Homo sapiens: one gene and its partner. The protein of the gene in region 1 purifies or fractionates together with the protein of each later gene. This does not show direct contact. Each region holds a gene or a part of one and is shown on either strand. Other genes may lie near its edges.

Region 1 (4,229 bases):
ACACAAGTGGGGCGCTAGGGAATCCTTGGTGCCCCACTCACCACCCCTGCACACTCCACCCCCACCTAGTCTCAGAGAGACACAGGCTCTCCCAGCCACTGGGGCGAAGACCAGATCCCAAACAGCTGATGCAGCAGGAAAGTGTGGGGACACCAAAAGGGCCATGGCAGGGAGGGGGTGCGGGCAGGAGAGTGCGGTCGACCAAAGACAGAATTTCAAACACTGGGACAGAAGAGGGAAGGGCATTCCTGGCAGTGGGAACAGCAGGAGCAAAGACCAGGATGAGGTGGGATTTGGGTGCTCAGGCTGAAGAGCTCCAGTGTGAGTCTGGGCTTAGCTGAGATCATGGCCTTGACCGCCAGGGCCCAGGAAGACACAGGCTGCTTGTCACACATCCCTCCCCCAACCCCCACACCCTACACACTGGCAGCTGCAGGACTGGGAGCAGGGGGTGGCAGGATCACAGACCAGACACAACCTGGGGAGGCTGGAGCAGGCAGTCTGGGGGGATGTCCTTGGGGGGAGCTGGGAGCTGAGCAGGAGATGGTCTGAGGCATCCCAACCCAAAATCACTGTCCCCTGTCTGAGCCCCGGGTAAGGAACTTTCCCTCAATTTCCTTACCTGCAAGGAGGTGGTAAGCCCTGCCTGAGGGCAGCTTTATCAGAAGGTTAGAGATGAAGGTACCCAGCTGGCAGGTGGCTGGGGGCATGGGATTAGCACCCCCAAGAGACCCCAGCTCCTCCCCACCCCACTCTCTATCCAGGACCTTCTCTGCTGACCCAGTAGTTTTTGGCATTTGTCTCCTTAAGCCTCTGAGCACACCCTGTAGCTGGCTGTCCGGGTGGCAGTTCACTCCCAGGCCCCCAACACCCAGCCTGACCACTCAAAGGAGCTCGGAGGTGGGACCAAGGTCCTCCTGGAAAGATTCCAGCCCAGAATCTTGGAAGATCCAGCACACAGATCTGCCTTGGAACACAGATGACCTGAGGCAGGAGGGATCCCTGAGGAGCCAGCAGCAGAGAGTGGCCCGTAACACTCCCCTGCCCCCTTCCAGGCAGTCTGGGGGGTCCCTGGGCTGCCTGGGGTGAGCCAGTGGGGGCTCTCCTGGATGAGGGGGGTGGGGAGAAGAGCCGAGCACAGGGTGTGTAGGAGTCAAGGAGGGTCCCCACAAAGGGAAGAAGGGGCGGCCCCAGGCCATGGTGGCGGAGGCGGGGAGCTGGAGGGGTCAGGAAAGGGCAGGGAGGGGACCGGCCTGATACTGGAGGAATGAGGAAGGGACAGGGAGGGTCCCAGTTGGGTGGGGTGGGCCTAGAGGGCCAGGCTGGGAGTGGGAGGAGCAGCCTGGAAGGCTGGGGAGCCCCTGGAGGGGCGGGGTCTTCACACCTCCACCCTGGGGAAACTCTACCCCACTAATCCGCTCAGCAGACCAGTCTGTCGCCACCTCACTTGGTGTCTGCTGTCCCCGCCAGGCAAGCCTGGGGTGAGAGCACAGAGGAGTGGGCCGGGACCATGCGGGGGACGCGGCTGGCGCTCCTGGCGCTGGTGCTGGCTGCCTGCGGAGAGCTGGGTGAGGTGTGGGACCCACAGGGGAGCTGGGACGGAGGGAGATGCCACCCACTGACATTCACACTGTTCCCGGGAGGGCGCCCCAGGAAGGGGCCTCAGAGGCAGGAGAAGCCAGAGCTGTGGGGCCGGGGGTGTGGCCCCCCCGCCATAAGGAGGGGAGGGTGGAAACGGAGAGAGGGGCTGGCGGTGAGGGGGACGCCTAATGAGGGTGAGCAGAGGGTGGCCTTCGAGGTGGGCGGGGGCCCAGCCAGCCACACCCCTGAGCACCAGCCTGGGTGTCACACTTTATGGGGGGCTATGGGCACCCAGAAGGGCCTTGAGCGGGGGAAGGAAGGCAACCCCAGGGAGGCTCTGAGGCTGGGGTGGCAGTAGAGATGGAGAGGAGTGGGGAAACCAGACACATGGGGTGGGGTGACTCCCTGATGTGGAGCCTGAAACAACCATCAGGGGCAATGTCCTGGACTCAACCAGAAGCAGCTTGGCCCAGAGGCCCCTGGCAGATGGCTTTGCCCATTTCCCAGAAACAGGTGCACCAGAGAGGGGCAGAGGCCCCGCTGCATCCCCACAGTGGGGACAGAGGAGTCGGGCCTAGCTGTGCAGCTGGCTGCCCTGGCCAGCTGGAACCAGCCAGACCCACCTGGGCTGCTGCGGTTGGGGCCGGGGTCACCGGAGCAGGAGGGAATTGGAGCCTCTCCGGTCCCCGTCCCTGCCGGTCTGCAAGTCCCTGTGGGAGAGGAGTGGGCACCCAGACACAGCCCGGATGCAGCCTGGCACACCCTGCATTCCATGGGCCTCCTGGCCTGATCCCTTGACCTCCACAGCAGCACTTCCCTGATGGGGAAACTGAGGGGGTAACCTGCCCCCAGCCACGCCCCCACCCAAGGCTTCCTGCCCGAGGTGCCTCTTGCTATGAAGATGCCAGGGCCTTGGTCCCCCTGAGTCTCCCAAACACTTCCAAAGGGGCTTGGCTTGGCTCCTCCCAGGCCTTGCAGGCTGGATCCCCACCCCCAGCAGCCGACTCTGCCTCTGGGATGCAAGGTTCCGAGGCTGAGCCCGGCCTGTCCCCAGCTGCAGGCTCCTGGCATTGCTCCTGAGTTTTGGCTGGTAGGCATCTCTACCCTGGCCAGTGTCACTGTCCTCTTCAGACCTGGGCTTCCAGGACAGACTGTCTCTGGGCTTGGGAGGGGTGGAGCCTGCCTGACCGCCCTTGTCCCTTCTCCCCAGCGCCGGCCCTGCGCTGCTACGTCTGTCCGGAGCCCACAGGAGTGTCGGACTGTGTCACCATCGCCACCTGCACCACCAACGAAACCATGTGCAAGACCACACTCTACTCCCGGGAGATAGGTCAGTGGGCACAGAAGGCGGGCAGGGCCGGGTTCCCGGTCAGAGCCACCTCCAGCCCAGTCACACTCTACTCCCAGGAGATAGGGCAGTGAGCACGGAAGGCGGGCAGGGCTGGGTTCCCGGTCAGAGCCACCTCCAGCCCAGTCACCACCAGCCAGCTTGGCCCCAGTGCACAGCCACCACCTCACCCATCTCCAGAAATGGCTTTCTGCCCGAGCTAGGCCTCCCTCTGCCCTCCCCTTCCTTCCTCTCTCCCTCATGTCCTTCGGTGGGAACATATCTGCAACCTCGTTTTGGGGGGACTGGAGAAGCTGGGCACACTTACAGGCTTTGGTTTCAACAGTCACCTCGGGGCGGGAACTGCCCCATCAGGCCGGGTGCCTGGCACATGGTAGACACCCGGACAACGTCGGTGGGAGGAGAGAGGAAGAGGAGGGCACTGGGCCAGGAGGGACGGAGACCCGGGTGGGTGACCCCAGAGTGGGGCCTGCATGAGGTGGTACTGGCAGGGACCAGGGCTTGGAGGCAGTGACCAGCCCTGACGGCTGACTCTTCCCACACCCCACAGTGTACCCCTTCCAGGGGGACTCCACGGTGACCAAGTCCTGTGCCAGCAAGTGTAAGCCCTCGGATGTGGATGGCATCGGCCAGACCCTGCCCGTGTCCTGCTGCAATACTGAGCTGTGCAATGTAGACGGGGCGCCCGCTCTGAACAGCCTCCACTGCGGGGCCCTCACGCTCCTCCCACTCTTGAGCCTCCGACTGTAGAGTCCCCGCCCACCCCCATGGCCCTATGCGGCCCAGCCCCGAATGCCTTGAAGAAGTGCCCCCTGCACCAGGACTCCTGAGTCTCCTTTCTGGGCACAGACCTGCCCTGCTGCATCTCTGACCTCGTCGATGTCCCCGTTCCTGTGTGTCTGTCTCTCTTCCTGCCTTCCTGTGATGTTAAGCTCTATCCCATCGTGAGAACAGCCACTGGGCCTGGGACCCCCACACAAACCATGCAGATCTCTGCCCTCAGGGGATGTGGGGGCCTGACCAGGGTGGGGCAGCAGCTGAGACCCTTCGGCAAGGGAGCACCACATCTACCAGGGTGAAGTCAGGGCCATCTCCTTGGAGGAGGGGGCATTAGGGCCAAGCCTTGAAGGATGGAGAGATCTGGCAGGCCTTGAGGAGGGCAAGGCATGTCAGGTGGAAGGAAGGTCAAGGCAGTGACCAGGAGCTGGGGTTGTCCTCTGGAGCACCCCACTACCCACCTCCCCAGCCTGAGCAGGGCCTTGCCCCAAGGCTGATGGCGGAGGCTGCTTTGAGGAGGAGA
Region 2 (4,138 bases), on another chromosome or scaffold:
TTAGTGGTTATAGGCATCAACCCTAGGGCCACGTGCCCTGGGTCAAATCCTGGTCCAACATATACTAGCCCTGTAACCTTGGGCAAGTTTCTTAACCTCTTCCAGCATCAGTTTCCTTGTTACAGAACAGAGATGATAGAGTTGTTGTGAGAATCAAATGAGTTAACACTTGTAAGTGCTCAGAACAATACCAGCATATAGTATCTGACGGAGACTCCTGAGCCTTCCCTGAAATTTCTACTTCATTAAAAGTGGACACTTGCTCACCCTGGGTAACATCTACTTGGGTCTCATGAACTCTAAGAGAATAAAGTGGGTGAGAAAACTGGAGGAAAAAAAATGTTTGGGGAAGCAAGGCTGCTTTAGAATCAGCTACACTGAGAGGCCTCTAAACCTTTCAGAGTGCCCAGCTTCTCTACTCATCCTTTACTTCATAACCATGGGGTACTCTAAATACTAAAGTTTGTTCTCCAAGACATAATTTTGGTGACTGGTGGGGGAGGATGTTAGGGGACAAAAGCAACTGATTACGGGAATGGGTTTTTTATTTTATTTTGTTTTGAGATGGAGTCTTGCTCTGTCGCCCAGGCTGGAGTGCAGTGGTGCGATCTCGGCTCACTGCAACCTCTGCCTCCCGAGTTCAAGCGATTCTCCTGACTCAGTCTCCCGAGTAGCTAGGACTATAGACGCATGCCACCACACTCGGCTAATTTTTGTAGTTTTAGTAGAGACGGGGTTTCGCCGTGTTGGTCAGGCTGGTCTCGAACTCCTGACCTCAGGTGATCCACCTGCCTCAGCCTCCAAAGTGCTGGGATTACAGGCGTGAGCCACCGTTCCCGGCCCAGGAATGGGTTTCTGAAGTTGGTATTTGCTTTCCTGTCCAACTCTGTTGGAAGGGAGGAAGTTGGAGAAATGAATGGCCCTTCCATTCTTTTGCAATCTGAGTTCAGTTCTCTTACTTCAAAGCAAATGCAGAACCCTTTGGGCAAACCTCACCTTTCCCTTCTTCTTCTTCTTTACTGGCACATCCCTTTACTCCCACAAAGTGTCCAGGGTGAGATTTACACAATGTAGGGGATTCCTAATTACACGTAGCAGCCAAGGTCAGAACCGCCAAAAGTACTAAGGTGGATGGTGAAGGGAAGCATCCTTTACTCCCATTTCTAACCTTGGCTACAGCTATTTCTCACCCTTAGCAACACCCAATCTTTCCTCTTTATAAAAGCCTTCAGACCACTGCGCATATCTTTATCACAAGTAAGCCCTCCCTTCTCTTGATCTTAGGACCACGTGAGGCTAGGGTTGATCTGACAGGTTATGCGAACACACACTTGGGAGGGCAACATTCAAATATATATCCCCTGTCAGTAGCACAGTAAGCTCAAAATATTTTTGTTGAGTAAACAGCATATGTACTCTGTGAAGGCATGCAGGTGGTATCCAACAGTTCCCATTTACTGTATTTAATATGGTCATAATAACTTCAGGGTCTTAGAAATATGACAATCGTATTCAGATTGAGGGGAAAAAAGGCCAATTTCATAAGCCCGGGACGACCAGTGGATGCAGGAAAAGCACAACGGACACTGCCTTGACCACTTTCTAGCTGTGCGATTCTTATGCCAACGAGCCTTTACAGGCTTCCTGCCTCGTCTGTAAAACGGGGTAAAAACAACTACCTCATGCACTGTTTCAATAATTCACTTTAAAAACAACAAAGTGCTATGCAAATGTTCTTGATATTCTTAGCCATCTAACATCTATGCACGCTCTACATTTATATTTCCTTCGTTAACTGTGGAGCCGTTCCTAAAGGGAAGCTTTTAAAGCGATAATGAAGATGCTCAGAAGAGTTCAATACAAGGTTACATGTGAAAGGAATGTCAGCAGCCTAAGAAAAATCAACCTAGCATCAGGTTTCATTCCAGGGGTGTTGAGAACCTGGAAAAAAATAATCTTTGGTGGGACACTCCTAACCTATCACCGCTGGGTTCCCACGGGCCAGGGTCGCACCCACGGCGAGCACCCCTTCATTTTACCTCTCCCCTCGTCTTTGCTCCCAGCCCACGCCCTCCCCAGCCTCCCACCTCAGGACCGCTCCGCCTGCCGGCCGCGGCGCCCAGCACCCGGCATTCCCATAAACCCCTTCGCCCGGAGCTTCAGAAAACGAAAGACAAAGCCACCCGCCCAACCCGGCGGCCGGGGCGCGGGTCCGCGGGGCGCCAGAGCCGGGCATGCGCAGAGGCCGCGGCGGGCTGCCGGCCTGGAAGAGCGAGGTTGGGGCGAGAAGCCGCCGGGACCCATAACTGGGTCGGCGGTCCGAGCCCCGCCTGCCAGCGCCCGCGGCCTCAAGGGCCGGGTAGGAGCGGCAGGGCGCCGGCGAAAGGCGGGGCGGGGGCGGCGCGGGCGGCGGGGGCGCCGCGTACCTGGTAGCGGCCAGTGAGCAGCTGGCTCCGCGACGGCGTGCACAGCGGCTGCGTGTAGTAGTTGTCCAGGAGCACCCCGCCGGCCGCCAGCGCGTCCAGGTGCGGCGTGCGGATGCGGGAGCCGTGGAAGCCGACGTCGTTCCAGCCTAGGTCGTCTGCCAGCAAGAAGACCAGGTGGGGCGGCCGGCTGGCCCCGGCGCCCGAGCCCGGCGGCGCCAACAACAGCAGCAGCAGCAGCGGGAGGACGACGGGGAGGAGCAGCCGCCGAGGTCCGGGGCCTCGGGGCAAGCTCGCCGCGCCGCGCGGACCCATCCTTGTCCGCCCGCGGTCCCAGCGCCTGTGGCGCCACCAGCCCCTTGTACCGCTGATAGAATGAGGAACTGGGCTGCCGGGGCCTGCTCCGCCCCGGCGCGGGACGGCACCCCCAGCGGGCCGTGGGCTTGCGAGGCCGGGCGCTCGGCCCCCGCCGCCTCCGACCCGGGCCCCCGGCTGCTGTGGCGGAGGAGGAGCCAGAGACGAACCCGCGGGCGCCCGCTGCCCGGCTTCTTGGAAACTCAGCTGACGCTTGGAGGGCACCAAGGCCCGTTATCTTCCCCGGCAATTAAATTTGCACTGTGGTTTCCTAAAAAAAAAAGATGTGTTCTTTAATAACGCTTCACAATTTACAAAGCATCTTCACAGCCCGCGTCTCCTGTAAAGCCTGCAACAACTCTGACAGTTAGACATTATAATTAGTGCCAATTTTTCATAAGAAAAAAGCTTATAAATGGTTAAACCTCTGACTCAGATCCTGAACCATGATGTCTAGCTAGCAAGTCATTTCTAGCACAAGAGCCCAGCCTGTGGCAGGTGGGAGGACGGTGAAAAGGCAGAGGTCTAAATAGCCTTTCACATTCATTTATGCGTAGTGTACACCCATGAAGCCGCTTCCTCCCCACTAGCAAACAGGAGGCCAAACACACAGTCTGATTGCACGGTGCCCTTTGGAAGGTGCGGTTACTTTCAAGTTGCCCTGGGAGGATTTGGAGTGTTGCGTGGTCATTGAATAAATAGCTCATTCGCTTGTCCGGATATGACCCCACTCAGAGCTGGCTCCCCCACTAAGCAGTGACACTAAGAAGCACACAGTATCTAGTTAGCCTGAAATATCTGAGTGGAAGGAAAAAATCCTTTAGTCACGTGCTTATTGAATTAGGAAGTTAGCCGTATGACCAGTAGATTCCCGTTGCCATCCAGACTTTCTGTCTACTCTGTCTGGAGATATTATAGTTGTTAACAGGTGTAGGGGAAAATTTTTGCATTGCCTAGAGACCATACCCTTCCAGGTTGAGTCTGATTCCGTGGAAGTTGTTTACAACTTTATAAGTTATAGATAAATAACAATGGAAAATAATTCTTATTTATATATACACAAATGAACTTTATCCAGCGGAGTAGCAATCCTTCCCCTCCACCACTACCAAGGAAAACAGTTTCACCTCCGCTTGCATATTTATTTTAGTATTCCTGATCTGTTCTTTGGATTGTCCTTTGAATTGGTTTTAACACCTTACCAATTTCCTTATTAATGAGTTAAATAAAATCATGTATTCACTTTTATATTTGTATGAGGGTCATGATTTTACCTTTTTTTCCCCAAGAATCCTTTAACACATGAAATGTTTGCCTCTTACATACACTTTTTTTCTTTGCATGAAGTAGATTAGTTTATG

What was found. Proteins that work in one complex are often made in the same cells at the same time.
Region 2: the proteins of LYPD2 (region 1) and ARSB purify together in Homo sapiens (affinity purification with mass spectrometry; one large-scale study listed by BioGRID and IntAct). This does not show direct contact.

What each region holds. Positions count from the first base shown.
Region 1 is NC_000008.11:142,749,733-142,753,961, reverse strand, and holds LYPD2 (ly6/PLAUR domain-containing protein 2 precursor), read left to right. Parts: upstream 1-1,429; 5' UTR 1,430-1,510; coding exon 1,511-1,568; intron 1,569-2,791; coding exon 2,792-2,911; intron 2,912-3,479; coding exon 3,480-3,679; 3' UTR 3,680-3,812; downstream 3,813-4,229.
Region 2 is NC_000005.10:78,982,511-78,986,648, forward strand, and holds the start of ARSB (arylsulfatase B isoform 1 precursor), read right to left. Parts: upstream 2,801-4,138; 5' UTR 2,739-2,800; coding exon 2,427-2,738; intron 1-2,426. UniProt on the Homo sapiens protein: Removes sulfate groups from chondroitin-4-sulfate (C4S) and regulates its degradation. Involved in the regulation of cell adhesion, cell migration and invasion in colonic epithelium.